Linked DNA regions of Homo sapiens. The protein of the gene in region 2 purifies or fractionates together with the protein of the main gene of each other region. This does not show direct contact. Each region holds a gene or a part of one and is shown on either strand. Other genes may lie near its edges.

The links. The genes of interacting proteins can lie anywhere in the genome.
Region 1: the proteins of SPATA24 (region 2) and TRIM9 purify together in Homo sapiens (affinity purification with mass spectrometry; 2 studies listed by BioGRID and IntAct, with this or other methods). This does not show direct contact.

The regions. Positions count from the first base shown.
Region 1 is NC_000014.9:50,980,090-50,987,113, forward strand, and holds part of TRIM9 (E3 ubiquitin-protein ligase TRIM9), read right to left. Parts: intron 6,078-7,024; exon of another isoform or gene 6,056-6,077; coding exon 5,867-6,055; coding exon of another isoform or gene 5,835-5,866; exon of another isoform or gene 3,333-5,834; coding exon 3,291-3,332; exon of another isoform or gene 3,193-3,290; intron 2,877-3,192; coding exon 2,853-2,876; intron 2,411-2,852; exon of another isoform or gene 2,234-2,410; intron 2,015-2,233; coding exon 1,711-2,014; intron 1-1,710. UniProt on the Homo sapiens protein: E3 ubiquitin-protein ligase which ubiquitinates itself in cooperation with an E2 enzyme UBE2D2/UBC4 and serves as a targeting signal for proteasomal degradation.
Region 2 is NC_000005.10:139,401,078-139,408,625, forward strand, and holds the start of SPATA24 (spermatogenesis-associated protein 24), read right to left. Parts: upstream 3,013-7,548; 5' UTR 2,984-3,012; coding exon 2,867-2,983; intron 1,672-2,866; exon of another isoform or gene 1,617-1,671; coding exon 1,551-1,616; intron 969-1,550; coding exon 838-968; intron 749-837; coding exon 678-748; intron 1-677. UniProt on the Homo sapiens protein: Binds DNA with high affinity but does not bind to TATA boxes. Synergises with GMNN and TBP in activation of TATA box-containing promoters and with GMNN and TBPL1 in activation of the NF1 TATA-less promoter.

The sequences.
Region 1 (7,024 bases), on a different chromosome or scaffold from region 2:
GGGGCCTTATGTTATCCATTAAACAGAAAAACTCATTCCAGAAGGATAGCAGTTTTTTGGCTTGTTGCATTTGAATTAAGAACTTGGAGGCTGTCTGTGAAATGACAGCACTGAAGAAGAGGCTTCTTCTCTGTACAGTGAAATAATTATACTCTGAGATGTAGTGATTTTAAAGAACCTGCATACAAATGCCATTTTACAAAGAATTGTGTCTTATGCTTCAATTGATGGTTTCACAAAATGCCATTAAAAATGGACGATCAGATTTGTCTTTCCCATTTTTTTGAGATCTAGCAATATTGAACTTCGTCCTCATCTCAGCAGAGCACAGGAATTTGTGTCATTCATTTCCTCTTGCATGCAGGATACAGACTGTACATAGTCATTAAAAGACAGGTTTACAAATTGCCTCTTGCTACTTCACAGGTTTAACAATGAAAGCACAAGTGACATGCAGGTTGCATGCAAGCAGATGTGTTCAGCATTAAGAATGTGTTTCTCTGCATAGTGTGATGGTTATGTCATTATTCACTCCTGCACTTCAAAACAAAGACGCTAAAAGGGAAAAAGTAAGTGTGGCATTTGGGTGATAGCACTGAGAATCTATTGACAGAGAGTTCCACAAAATGCCGATCACTGAAGATAACCACTTATCTACATCCAGTAGGATTTGCTTTCATGGTGAAATGGTGTGTGTGTTCACTTCAAGTGACAGCGAATAATACACACTTGAATGCTATAGAAGCTATCCAAGGGAAAAGGAGGCTTTAGGAGTCTACAGGCTGGAGAAGGGTCAGTGATGAGCATACAGAAAAAGATAAAACAGTGGGGTCCAATTATCCTACCAATGTCTGACTTGCTTTCCCTTTGATCTGGTTGAACACTACTGTATTTTTTTTTTTTTTCAGAGACACTAATGAGAATGTATCCTGGGGAAATCTTGGAGCATAAGGTGGACCAGGGTCCACAGTAGAAATTTCTCTGCCTAGGAAATTTGTGAAAAATACATTTGAGGAACACAATCAAATGAGAAAGGAAATCCATTATAGTATGTGTTCAATTATAATGATCTATATTTTGGTGGTAGAAGAAAACCTCAAGGAGATTACTGTATTTCCTTTCCTTAGCAAACTGGCTGCTCTGGATTAATACAGTAATAAGAGAGTTCTCTATAAGTAGAAAGCCATTCAAATTGGCATCCATAAGCTTTAGTTTAATGAATCGTAATAAGAAGAATGGCTACTATTTTCAGGTGCTTCCAATGTAAGGCATTTTCACATATTTCATTTAATCTTCAGAAGATTCCCACAAGGAAAAATTTTATTGTACTAATTTGATGGATTTGGAAACTGAGGTTCAAAAAACGAAGTAACTTGCCCAAAAGTGCTTTTCTGTTAAGTTGTAGGTCTGGGTGTTTCAGCATCCTGGATTGTTTTCTTATAATGGATATCCATTGGGATTCTTAGTTTCCAGCCATGGGTGAAATACAGCAATGAAGGGAGTAGGAAAGTACTCAAGTCTCTATCATTATATAGAAAGTAAACCACCAGCATGGACTCAGCTGAGGCTCATAGATTGCCTGTGCTACTTAATGTAGACCACCTGTTTGATTTCCTGAATGTGGTCTATGTAATAGGTTTTTGAACTGGGGCTCTCACTCCTGATCAGAAGCCAACGTGAAGAAGGCTTGGTTTGGGGGCTGCAGGGTACCTGTTGGTGTGCGAGTTGTTGTGCATGAACCAGCTCCGGTTATTGTCCACATACATTGCCCAAGCTTTGTCGTCTTTTCCTAACATCACATCCTTCATCACGTCCATGCGAGCCACACCAAAGGCAGGATCAGGGTGGTTGTCATAGCGATCTACCGTGAGCTCCCAGTAGTGGATGCCCTTGGAGAAGCCAGTCTTCCCTAGCACCACCCGGTCATCATAGCTACTACAGGTCACTGTCAGGTTGTCATTGGAGAGGATGATGTCCGAGTGCGCCGAGCCAGGGTCGAAAGCAAACCAGGCCACTGGGAACAACAGAAGGGAATCAGGTTATTAAGACAGACCCAACAAGCTCAGCACCATAACATACTCCTGGGCGGGTGAGGAGCGTTGTGTAGCGTTTTCATGCTGCCATGCAGGAAGGAGGCGTCCAGGGCCAGGGCAGACAGGGGCACGTCCTGGGAGTTGGTACTCTCTGCACCAGAAGCAGACGGAGGACACACGACCGATTCAGCAGGGGTTACCTGGCTCAGACTGCACTCCCAACCAGGTGATCCGGGAGTGAAGTGGCATCGATTTTGGAAGGTGCAAGTCCCTTCACCTGGTGACTGGCAGAACAGTGCACCAGAGACATAAAGGGAGAGGGGATGCGCTAAGATGCCTGTGTAACCCCTGAGGCGGGGAGGCTAGGAGCTAGAGTCCTAGATGGAGGAGGGATAAAACACATGGAGTGAAATCAGGAAATATCCCTTCGGCAGAAGTGCTAACATCTAGTCGCTTTGAAGTCTTCCTCGGCTCTAGTGAAAGCTCACAAGCTGCGAAGCTATAAGCAACATAAACTAATTTTCATGAGTGATTGTGACTTGCATGTAGGACAGGTTGCTGTCTGCATAACTTAAAAAACACAGTTTGCGTGCTACTCCTGAAACTAACACGTCAGAAATTTTGCTGGAGCAGTAGGAATTTCGGACATTAGGTGCAGATAGAATGATGTCTTTGTACGCATTGTTACGCCCCAAGTTCTAAATGCCACCTATAAATATCACACTCGAGAGATGTAATTGCTGATTTATTAAACCTGTGAGACACCTCACATGCACTTTGGTCTTTGCTATTTGGTAACAGAATAAGGTTATTCCATACCTGCCAACAGCTTTTTAATGTCAACTGTTGTCATTCCAAGTGAAAGGCATGGGGGAGAGAGATAGGAAGCAAAATTGACATGGATAAGAAAATGTGTCTCTCTTGATAGACTAGTACCCCAAAAGGACTCAATTTAAAATGCCACATATACTAAACAGGTGCTCTCTGACTTGTACCTTTACCCACATTTAGTGCTCATAAAGAGTGCTTTGCACTGATGTAAAAGAAAACTGGGGGAAAAGTAAGGTTTGAGGCATAACATTAAACACTACAGGCATCTTTTCCATTTTTTAAGAGTTTGAGAAACTGCTATAATAGGGTTAGAATGACAATTAGACAATTTTATTGACATAAGACAAGTTGCCGCCATTTATTTTGTGAAGGAAATTGAGCACACCAATCACGTAAGTAAAAGATAATTACAATAGGTATACTTGCCTAATTGAGAGTAAGGTGCAGATTGTGTCTCAAAATTGCATCCTATAAAGAGATACTACACATCAACGCTATGAAACAACAACCAGGTTGATAAAAATTACTTGTATACGCTTAAAAAGCACCAGTTGAATATAGATACCAGAGGCCTGATCCATGAAAAAACAAAGCCCTTTTTATATTATTTAGTTTGTTGGGTAAAAAACTGCCCCTCTGCTCTTTCAAAATGAAAAGCACATCTTTTTACCATTTAATAAATCCTCCTCCAATTGATCCTAAACTCTGTAGCTGAATTTTTCATCTTCCAAGTTCAATCTTTTCCTCTAAAGTTTCCACAGTAAGAAGGCTAGCTGTTTTAAAAATGGGGAAAATGTACTTAATTGCAACGGAGAAATCACTGGATTTTGATAAAACTCTGCTCTCACTATTCTATGCACTTCTAACTCTGGTTATGCCAAAAGGTCTTCATTGTGACTTGAGCCCAAATTAAATATAACTAAATGTGTAATGTAATCCATTTGTGAATACATACATCTTATTAATAATTATTAATAATGACATGACGAATGTGTTAAAACTGCCTCCTTTCCTTCTTAGGAGACAAGATCCTTCTCACCTGAGGGAGGGGAGGAGGGATGGTAGGAGTGGGTGTGGTCTCAGAGATACATTGGAATCCCCTGTGGAACTTTTTCAACCATCTCCCTTCCTTAAGATTTGGATACCTGTACCCCATGAGAAATTACATTGTGTGGAGGAAGACTGCCTAGTCTTAAAATGTTCAAAAGTGTGTGACCTACAATTTCCAGTGGTTTCAAGGACTGATCTAGAAAATGTGGTTTTGATGAACACTGGGGGATAAAGAAAGGATCATTTTATTTTCTTTTCTATTTAGTAAGGCCTTTATATGCTAATTCCTAAAACATTTGCAGGATAATGTGCTGACTTAAAAGAATTTTACAAGAATTAAAAAAGCAACTTACTATAAAAAAGGACTAATGGCTGAGTTAAAAACAAAATATAAAAATTATGATCTTACTTTTGGTTAGTTTGCTTTTCTCTGGGATGAATTCACATGCAAAAGAATCGTTTCCTCCCATCTCATGGCTGATTTTTATGTTTTGTTTCTATCAATTATCACTTCAATTCCTATTCATGTGTTAGAGCATAGTGACTATGGAATACCTGGAGTTTTAAAACCGACTCTCATATTCAGCTTGGAAATAAGTTTGTAGAATCTGAATAGGGCTTTAAAAACTTTTAAATGAATCATGCCTTGTGCAACTCTTTTTCAAAACAAATATTCTGAAATCTTTTTACACTACTTTAAATACATTATCATACATTTAAGATTCAACAATACAGCTAGAATAATGCTCTTAAATACACCCATCAAATATCCCAAAACTCACATTTCATTTTATTCTTGAGACAATGTGCATTACAAAGACTGTAACGATATTTCAGTACATTAGACACAAGGGAAAAGAGTTTCATAACAAAGCATGTTGGGAAGCCATAGTGCACAGAAAAACAATAAGAAACATAAAAGCACAAAGAAGAATGTCATTTTAAAGACAGCTTGAAGTCCCTGCATCCTTTTTGCACTGTCATGCTGTGGCCTTCTTCATTCCAGAATGTGGGATGAGCAAAAAGAATAAAATAAAAACCAAAAGAAACCTTTGGAAATATGAAATGTGCATCATGTGTATCCATGATTACAATATAGTCCTGAAGAGATCAAATAGGTCTGCATCTTATATATTTTAACATTCTATTTGCTAGGCAGTGTTCGCTACAAAGGAACACAAGTCTAGCTTTGCTGAAATCAGCCTTAGGCTCTGTCACAACCAGCTTGGCTGTGGGAAACTTCGAGGAGTCCAGACTTTTTGATTACTCAGATCTTTGGTCATTAGGCATTAGGAGTTAAGGGTTTCTAATTCGGCTAGCAGTGATCCCACCCCATTGCTAGGAAAACACTCAGCCATGAGCCCCACTGTCCTAGCAGTGAGCACAGGCTTTTGCAGAAAATGCTTTCACTTTCTGCTCTCTGGATTGCCTGCTTTATAGGATGCTTTCTGCTGTTGGTGTGTTTTTACTTTTATTGTACTTTGTCAATAAAGATCTCTTGAGTCTATGTTTAATCAGACCACTCCAGGCTGGATGCACTGATCCAGTCTCCCAGACACTGCTGGTTTCCTGGATACAGAAGGGCTGCAAACCTCCACATTACTGCCATGGCCGCCACTCAGCCAGCGCCCGTGCCGTGCTATGCCACTGCATGTGATGACAGAGCGGGTTATCCATGGTGGTACCAGCTTGTGCGAAAAGAATAACTTCACTCATCACTTTCTAATGCCGTAATACATGGACCACAGCTCCATGGTTGCTCCTTCCACCACACAAACAAGAACGCCACAAAGCTCCACCATCCCGATGCTCCTCATACGGAAAGCAGGCCACAGACAGAGACTAGCTCATCCCCCTCACCACGCACATGAATGGCAAGAACAAGACACGCGTTTCAGAGATGCCTTCAAGGCACAGAGATCAAGGGGAAAGGTCTGAGGAGCTCAGCTCACCCGGTGCATTGAGAGACTGTAAAGAGGAATGCAAGCTCAGCTGGTGGGGTGAGGATCGGAAATCAAAGTAGGATCTCCCGGGGAAGCTGGGTTGTAGATTAAGGGTGGAGGAGAAAGGACTCATTCTACGGAGCGGCAATCTTTCCGAAGGCACTGGAAAAGGGAGGGTCTGTTCTTCTGAATCTGTGTCTAAATGTAAGATCAATGCAAACTAGAGATCAGAAGTCTGCTATTATGTCCCCGTGCACGGTTCCCCAAGACCTGCCTTAACAATGCATTCATACAAAGCCTCATCTTTCCCACAGGGTGCCACACTCAGGCATTTACAAAACCAATGTGCCTGGGGGCAGGGAGGGAATTTTCGGCAGATCAGGACCCAAGACCAGAGGACACCTCGAACAACAAAGGCAATTGTTGTCACTTTCCCGATTTTTAGTGGTAGAAAATTGGAAGGTTTCCTTTTAATTAAATAAAATACTTTTAGAATTGAATGTACAAAATGTAAAGGCAAATTTTACCTATTGATGACCAAGAGGATATTATTTTACCCCCTTCAGTTGTCCTGGGAGTTACTACCTATTCAACAATGGCCTCTTAAAGGGTTTCTATCTAAGAGATGGTGATTTTTTACAAACTGTTTCCTATTCCATATTTTCCCATTTCTCTCCTAATGTGTATTTTTCTATTAGATGGATGAGCTGATTTTTTATACTAGCACACTCCAGACTCTATCTTTGAATAGGAGAGGAAATGTGGGGTGGTCTAAGGAAGACAGGGCTGGACAAGTAAGCAGGGAAAGAGCCTTACCTTTGTTTCTGAATTATGATCAGACTCTAGGGATGTCACTTGACCATCTTTGTTTCTCTAATGATAAACAGACTGTAGGCAGTGGTGAGGTGCATTGGTGGCAAAATATCTGTTTCTGTTCAGATAGTCAGGTTTGGCCTGAAGATAATTATTATATCAGACTAAAGACTTAACAATTATTTGATCTGGTTTTAGAAGGGCATGAGTTAGTTTCTCTGAATTACTAAAATTGGTCCTTTCTATTTTGTCAAACAATAGCTGGTTCTATGCACGGTGTGGTCTAGTCAGAGGTGGATCTTTCGCCAATTGAAGCCTTCTTAACATTCAGTCTAATAGCAATAATTTAGGAAA
Region 2 (7,548 bases):
ACCCAGGAGATGGAGGTTGCAGTGAGCCGTGTGCCACCGCACTCCAACCTAGGCAACAGAGCAAGACTCCATCTCAAAAAAAATAAAACAACTTGGTTTCACTGGGCATGGTGGCTCACACCTGTAGTCCCAGCTACTTGAGAGGCTGAGGTGGGTGAATCACTTGAGCCCAGGCATTTGAGACCAGCCTGGGCAGCATAGTGACACCCAGTCTTAGAAAAATAAAAATAACTCTTAGTTTCCATTTTAAAGATCTGGCAATCCTAGCCCCCTGTCACCACATGCATCCTTCCCTATTGAGTCCTGACCCTGAGACTAAGGATCAGGTCCCAAATAGGACAGTGCTTGCCCTGTGTTCCTCTTGTATCAGTTAGGAGTAACCCATCAAAAGTGGGAAAACAAAAGGTGGACTAAGAAGGTTGTATGTTTCAGGAAAAATGGGAGCAAGCCCATTCCTTTATGGCGGTGAAGAATATAGTACACCGACTGCTTCCCTCATTTCCGTGGCCTGCCTGGTCCCTTAAGGCCTTTTCGAAGGTGTGGCCCACCCGGGCCTGCCTGTATCCTCAGCTGGGGACAGGTGTTAGAGTGAAACCCTGCCTTTGACACAGGCACTGGGTGGTTAGGAAAGAGCCCGTTTATATAACCGTGGTGGAGAGCACGGGCCTCCCGCCTACCATTGCACTTGGTGATGAGCTGGTCCTTCTTGCTGGACTCCTGAAGGACTTTGCTCTTGACACTGGAGAGCCTGGGTGGGGAAGATAAGATGGGAGGGTGGGCAGGCTAGCAAGCAGATGCATCCCCCAAACCCCACACCCCGTACTGAGGCCCACTCACGCTTTTTCAAAGGCCAGCTTCTCTTTCTCCAGCTGCTTGGATAGCACCTCTACCTCTCCGAGGGCAAACTGTAACTTCTCCTCTTCCTTGGCCAGGAGGACCTTGGTTTTGGCATGGGCAGCTTTCTCTTCCTGCAGGGGCAGCAGCAGTCACCTCATTACCCTAGGCCGCCTTGGGTCTCCTAGACTCCCTTAACCAGCCCCCCTTCTCAGAGGGACACACAGAAGCCAGAGCACAGGGAGATTCTGGCCACCTTGCTACAGGGGCTGGAGGTTCTCAGAGGCCGACCTTTCTTTTTTCTTTTTTCTTTTTTTTTTTAGACAGAGTCTCACTCTGTTGCACAGGCTGGAGTGCAGTGGCATGATCTCAGCTCAGTGCAACCTCCACCTCCTGGGTTCAAGCCAATTCTCCTGTCTCAGCCTCCCAAGTAGCTGGGATTACAGGCGCCTGCCACCACGCATGCTTGGCTAATATATATATATGTATATATATATTTTTTTGTATTTTTAGTAGAGACAGGGTTTCACCATGTTGGCCAGGCTGGTCTCGAACTCCTGACCTCAAGTGATTTGCCCGCCTTGGCCTCCCAAAGAGCTGGGACTACAGTTGTGAGCCACTGCACCCATCAGAGGCTAATACTTAATGAGCCTGCCTAACCACAGGGATCCTGGGAAACGGGGGAAGATTAGGAGACCGCAGAGGCCATTACTTACCACCAGCTTCTTCTCCACTGCCTGGAACTCTTCTTTACTGACAAAATTTTCGTCCTGGAGAACCATCTGCAACAGAGCCTGGCTGAGGGAGGGCCTGGGGCTGGAGTAGAAGGGGCGCCCTCTAGGGACCAGGACCAAAAGCGGATAACAGGATGATGCTCGTGGTACCTAGGATGAGACTGAGGCCTTGGGAAGGGAGAATTCAGTTCCACAGATAAACTGAGACTCAGCTCTAAGTGCTGCCCTCAAGGAGCAGCCAGTCTCATGGAGGAGGCAGTCCACAGTTAGCACTTCTAACATGTTGTGTGCCTTGATGGGGAGACATAAGGGGATCTGGGGCTCAGAGGAGGCCCCAACCCAGCCTGGGGAAGGGTCAGAATCACTTCCGGAGAAGGGGATGTTAGACCTGAGATCTGACTGCTATATAGGGTGGGCCAGAAGAGGGATAGAGAGAAAAGCACTCTGGATGGTGGGGACACACATGCCAAGGTCAGCTGCCAAGAGGAAGACCTGGGTACCTTCAGGGAATCAAAGGCAATTCAGTGCCTAGAGCTCCATATATTTTGTTGAATGAGAGCATTAGGGTAGCAAATAGGACAGGTCTCTCTCCCCTTTCCCCCACATTCAACTTCCCAGAAGGGAAGAAATTGTCTAAGAACAACTTAGAATGAGAAGTAGATGTGAAGCCAGTTTTATTTCTGAGATGGAGATACATCCTAACCTTCTTATCAAGACAGGAAAACAAAACCAGAAAAACCATGAACTCCAGATGGCCAGGATTCTATCATGCCTACCCAGGTAATCTGTGACTGCAATGCTTTGCACCCATTAGCTGGGGTTTGATTGAGAAGGCAAAAGCTAAGGCATGTAAAGTTCTTGGAGGCCCCTAAGTTAGCGCTGGCAAGGGCCAAATCTGCGCTTACTGCATTCAACACGGCACTGCCTTTGACTCTCGGGAATGGTGTCCATAATAGAAGGGATGACAGTTTCTCTGCCTGCACAGGAGGGCCATGGGAACTCAGTGACGTCATCTCCACTGAAAATGGGGAAACTGAGGCTCAGGGACTCTCTACCAGCTCTTGCAGCAACCAGGCAAACGGAAGGGAGAATATGGCTTGATTTTAGTTAAAATTCCCTGGTTCAGGAAGGTCCGCCCCTTTTTGGCTCCACCCCTACCGACTGAGCCCGGCCTCCTCCTGATGACGCCATGGGCCATGCGTTCTAGCCACGGCCCCCGCATCGGAACAGGTTCTGGCCCCGCCCCCACCAGTGAGGCATCCGGCCCCGCCTCTCCCCAAACTCCTCTGGCTGCATACCACGTTCCTCAGCTGGTGGATTAGTTCCTCCTGAGACTCAATCACGTCCCGCAGTTGATCTAAAGCGAGACACACAGATCCTGACCCCGCCTTCGACCACCCGAGGGGCGTCGCCATCTTCCGCCCCCGCCAGCTAGTTGGAAATGGCTGCCTCGGGGGTGATCCTCGCCGTCGCCCACCAATGAGAATGCGACGCCACAGAGCACCCTGGCAACGGGGGGCGGGGACTTCCTATGTTAGCGGGGCGAGGGGCCGCCTCTTAAAGGAGCCGCCTGGAGCGGGGAAACTGCTGACAACCCTTAAGGCATTTAAGTTTACAGGAAATTGCGCTTTTATTGCGTCTTCTGTTTCTCACGCAGTCCTGAGAAGCCGGCAGGGCCCGGCTTGTACTTTCCTTGCCTGCGAGCAGGCAACACTCAAAACAGCAGCCCTCAGCCTTCACCCAGGGCCTGTTAAACTGCATGACCACGAAGCAAGAGCCAGCATAGGCAACTCCTGCATCTTTAGCTTCTCATGCCTCTTTCTCCAAATCTTTATCCTAATCTCCAAATTTCCTCCATTGTATGAGATTCCAGCCTCCTGGAACACACTTAGTACTTAGGGGTCCTAAGCCTAAGCACGGAAGATAGACGAAGATAAAAAATGAGAATGGCTACACCTGAGATCAAAGTCTTCATACTCTGATACCAGGCTCTGGGCACTAGAGTCTGCACTAGAGTCATGTGCCACCACCCGAGGAGGAGGACCCTGAAGAGATTAGGAGGACTGAAGAGGGCTTGAAGGAGGAGAGTTTAGTAAAATGAAGTCAGGGAAGGATACGGTGATTACGCACACTCACCAAGTCTCTATTGAAGGCTTTTTTTTTTTTCTTGGAAACCCAAATAAGATTAGGTTTGGAGAACATCAGAGCGAATATATATTGTGTTCACTATTTCGTGGCACCGTTATGTTTATATTATTTCATGTGACCCTCATGGAACTCCTATCAGCCCCTTTTTACCTAGGCTCTATGAGAATGAGAATGAATAACTTGCCCAAGGTCACTCTAGTAAGTTGTGGAACGGAGTTCTGCTATGGGCAGTTTGGTTCCAGGGTCCGTGTTTTTGTTTGTTTGTTTTTTGAGATGTAGTCTCGCTCTGTCGCCCAGGCTGGAGTGCAGGGACGTGATCTCGGCTCACTGCAAACTTCACCTTCCGGGTTTAAGGGATTCTTCTGCCTCAGCCTCCCAAGTAGCTGGGATTACAGGCGCCCGCCACCACGCCTGGCTAATTTTCTTATTTTTAGTAGATACGGGGTTTCACCATGTTGGCCAGGCTGGTCTCGAACTCCTGACCTCAGGTGATCCGCCTGCCTCGGCCTCCCAAAGTGCTGGGATTACAGGCATGAGCCACCGCGCTGGGCCTGGAGTTCATGTTCTTAACCAGGATGTTGTGCTGCATTTGTGTTGCACGTCATGGGTGGAAGTTATGGAATTTGATACCCCCAAGTAGGAAATGACTATACTAACAAGGAGTTTGGAAAAAAAGTTACCAGTGACTATGAAAGGAGGCAGAAAGCTCAGGGTAAGTCATTCAAGCCGCTCCCCAAAACCCCCCGGGGGGCCTGACAAACTTGGCCATCCCTGTGGTTCTCTCAGCGGGAGCCCTTGTTTTGTTTCTTGCGTTTATTTTCATGGACTTGGAGACAAGGCCATCTCTGCTGACCTCTCTCTCTTTTTTTTTTTTTTTTTTTTTGAGACGGAGTCTTGCTCTGATGCCCAGGGTGGAGTGCAGTGGTGCGATCTTGGCTCACTGCAAGCTCTGCCCCAACCGGGGTTCACACCATTCTCCTGCTTCAGCTTCCCGAACAGCTGGGACTACAGGCGCCCGCCACCATGCCCGGCTAATTTTTTGTATTTTTAGTAGAGATAGGGTTTCACCATGTTCTCTTTTTTTTTTCTTTTTTTCTTTTCTTTTTTTTTTGAGATGGAGTCTTGCTCTGTCGCCCAGGCTGGAGTGCAGTGGAGCAATCTTGGCTCACTGCAACCTCTGCCTCCCAGGTTTGAGCGATTCTCCCAACTCAGCCTCCCCAGTAGCTGGGATTACAGGCAGCTGCTATCATACCCAGGTGATTTTTTTGTATTTTTGTAGAGACGGGGCTTCACCATGTTGGCTAGGCTGGTCTCGAACTCCTGACCTCAGGTGATCGGCCAACCTTAGCCTCCCACAGTGCTGGGATTATAGGCGTGAGCCACTGTGCCCGGCCGACCTCTGTTAAAGGGCCTAGAACAATACAGTTCAATAGAACTTCTAGTGATGAAAATGTTCTACAGCTGCACTATTCAATAGCCACTAGCCACATGTGGCTCTTCAGCAGTTGAAACGTAGCTCATGTGACTGAGAAATTGCTTTAAATTTTTTATTATTTTCTGAAGATCACCTTAATCATGGCTCTTTAAAATTTTTAAATTTTTAGTTTAAATGGCCATGTGTGGCTACTGGCTACTGTACTGGAAAGTGTGTGCCTAGAGGGCACTGTGTAGGTTGTGTGCCTCAGCACAGACCCTCTCAGAACTTGGTGTACCAAATGTGAATGTTCACCTGAATCACCCTTCACAAAGCTGCACATTCTTCTGGGGCAGTGATTCCTGAGCCTTCCCCAAGAACTGCACTTCCTCCCTAGGATCTTTCATGAGGCACTGCTTGATGTCCCTTGATATCCAACATCCACCTTCACCAGCTGGAACAGGCTGCTCTCTGCGTACTTGGGGCAAAACCCTGGAGAGCAGTAGGCTCCAGCAGCCACCTGGGGGTGGAAGCTTATGAACAAGAGAGAACCCTGGATCCAGGTCTGCACCTGCTTCCTGGCATGGACATGAGGGGTGGTCACCCTGGTTGGGCACTGCCACAGACTCCTCTATATGTTGAAAGGCACTTTGGGCTCCTGGTCAACCAGGACTCAGTGAGACTCAGGATGACATGACATCACAAACAGCTCTGTGATCCTGCCAGGGAAGGGTTGCCTTTCTGCACAGGCTTGTCATTTTGGCTGATGTTCTGGTTATCTATTGGTGCATAATAAACCACCCCCCAATTTTTTTAAGTCATTGAAAAAAATCATTTTGTTCATGAATCTGGAATTTGGCAAGGCTCAATGGTGAAAGCTTATCTCTGCTCCATGCAGTGTGAACTGGGATGGTTCAACGGGGAGTTAGAAGTTCCAGTTCCAACATGGCTCACTCACGTGACTGGCAAGTTGGTGCTGTCAGCTGGGAGCTCTGCTAGGGCTGAGGACCAAAGGTCTTGGTTCCTCTCCATAGGCTGCCTGGACTTTCTGATAGCATGAAGACTGGGTTAAAGATAATCATTCAAAGTGACAGAAAATGGAAGATGCCAGTTTCTTAAGGCCTGGGCCTGATACCTGGCATAGTGTCATTTTTGCTGTATTCTATTGGTCAAGGAGTCAGAGTCTAGATTCCAGAGGAGGACACACAGATTCCTCCCCCTACCCCACCACCTTTCAATGGGAGTAGTGTCAAAGAATTTGGGCTGCACTTCTAGAGCAAATCCTTATGACAGATGGGGCACCACTCCCTTCAAGGTTCATTTCAGGTAAAACCAGTCAGGAACTTAGTCTAGTGGGAAAAGTCAGACAATAATCAAACAACCAGATAAATCTAAAGAGAAACTTAGCCAGGTGGGGCTAAGATTCTGTGCAAGGGAAAGCTTCTGTGAGGAAGTGATGTTTGAGCTGAAGCCTATTAAGGTAACTAGGAAGCACTTAGCAAAGAGGGTAGGGGCAGATGAGTAGGTAGGGATACCAGAAAGAGGAAGCAGTGTATACTTTGTGTATACAAAGTCCCTGGGGCAAAAGGGGCTGGTAGAGTGTAGTAATTAAAGGGTAGCATGGCATAAAAGAAAAAGATTATAGGGCAAGAGGGGGCTTGGGTAGTGGGTAGAGACCAAGAACTTGGCAGAGCCTTGCTAAGCAAGGTAGGCCATGCTAAGGATTTTGGTGATTTTTATTTTAGGGACAAAAGAAAGCTACTGAAATATTTTAAGCAAGAGGATGACGTGATCCAATTTATGCTTGGAAAAGATCTCTTTGGTTGCAGTGAGGTATACAGATTGGAGTGGGGCTGTGTAAGTGCACAGAGACCACTTTAACCGAGAAGGCTACTGCAGTGAAAGTGGATGGTAGTTTGAGAGTCAGATAGTGTCAGAGATGAGAGTAGGTTTAGGATATTCTGGAGGTAAAATTGATGGAACTTAACAGAGAGAGGGAATAAGGGAATATGGGGACAAGGAAAAGGTGTTTTGGCTGTCTATTGCTAAAAACCACCATAAAATGTAATGGCTTCAAACAGCAACTTTTTTTTTTTTTTTTTAAAGACAGAGTCTTACACTGTCGCCCAGGCTGGAGCGCAGTGGCGCGATCCCAGCTCACTGCAACCTCCGCCTCCTGGCCTCAAGCAATCCTCCCACCTTAACCTTCCTAGTAGCTGGAACTGTAGGTGTGCAGCTAATTTTTATATTTTTCGGTAGAGACAGGGTTTCATCACGTTGCCCAGGCTGGTCTTGAACTCCTGGGCTCAAGCCATCTGCCTGGCTCAGCATCCTAAAGTGTTGGGATTACAGGCATGAGCCACTGCACCTGCAAAAAAATGGCTGCAATCATTTTATTATTTGCTCACAATTCTGCAG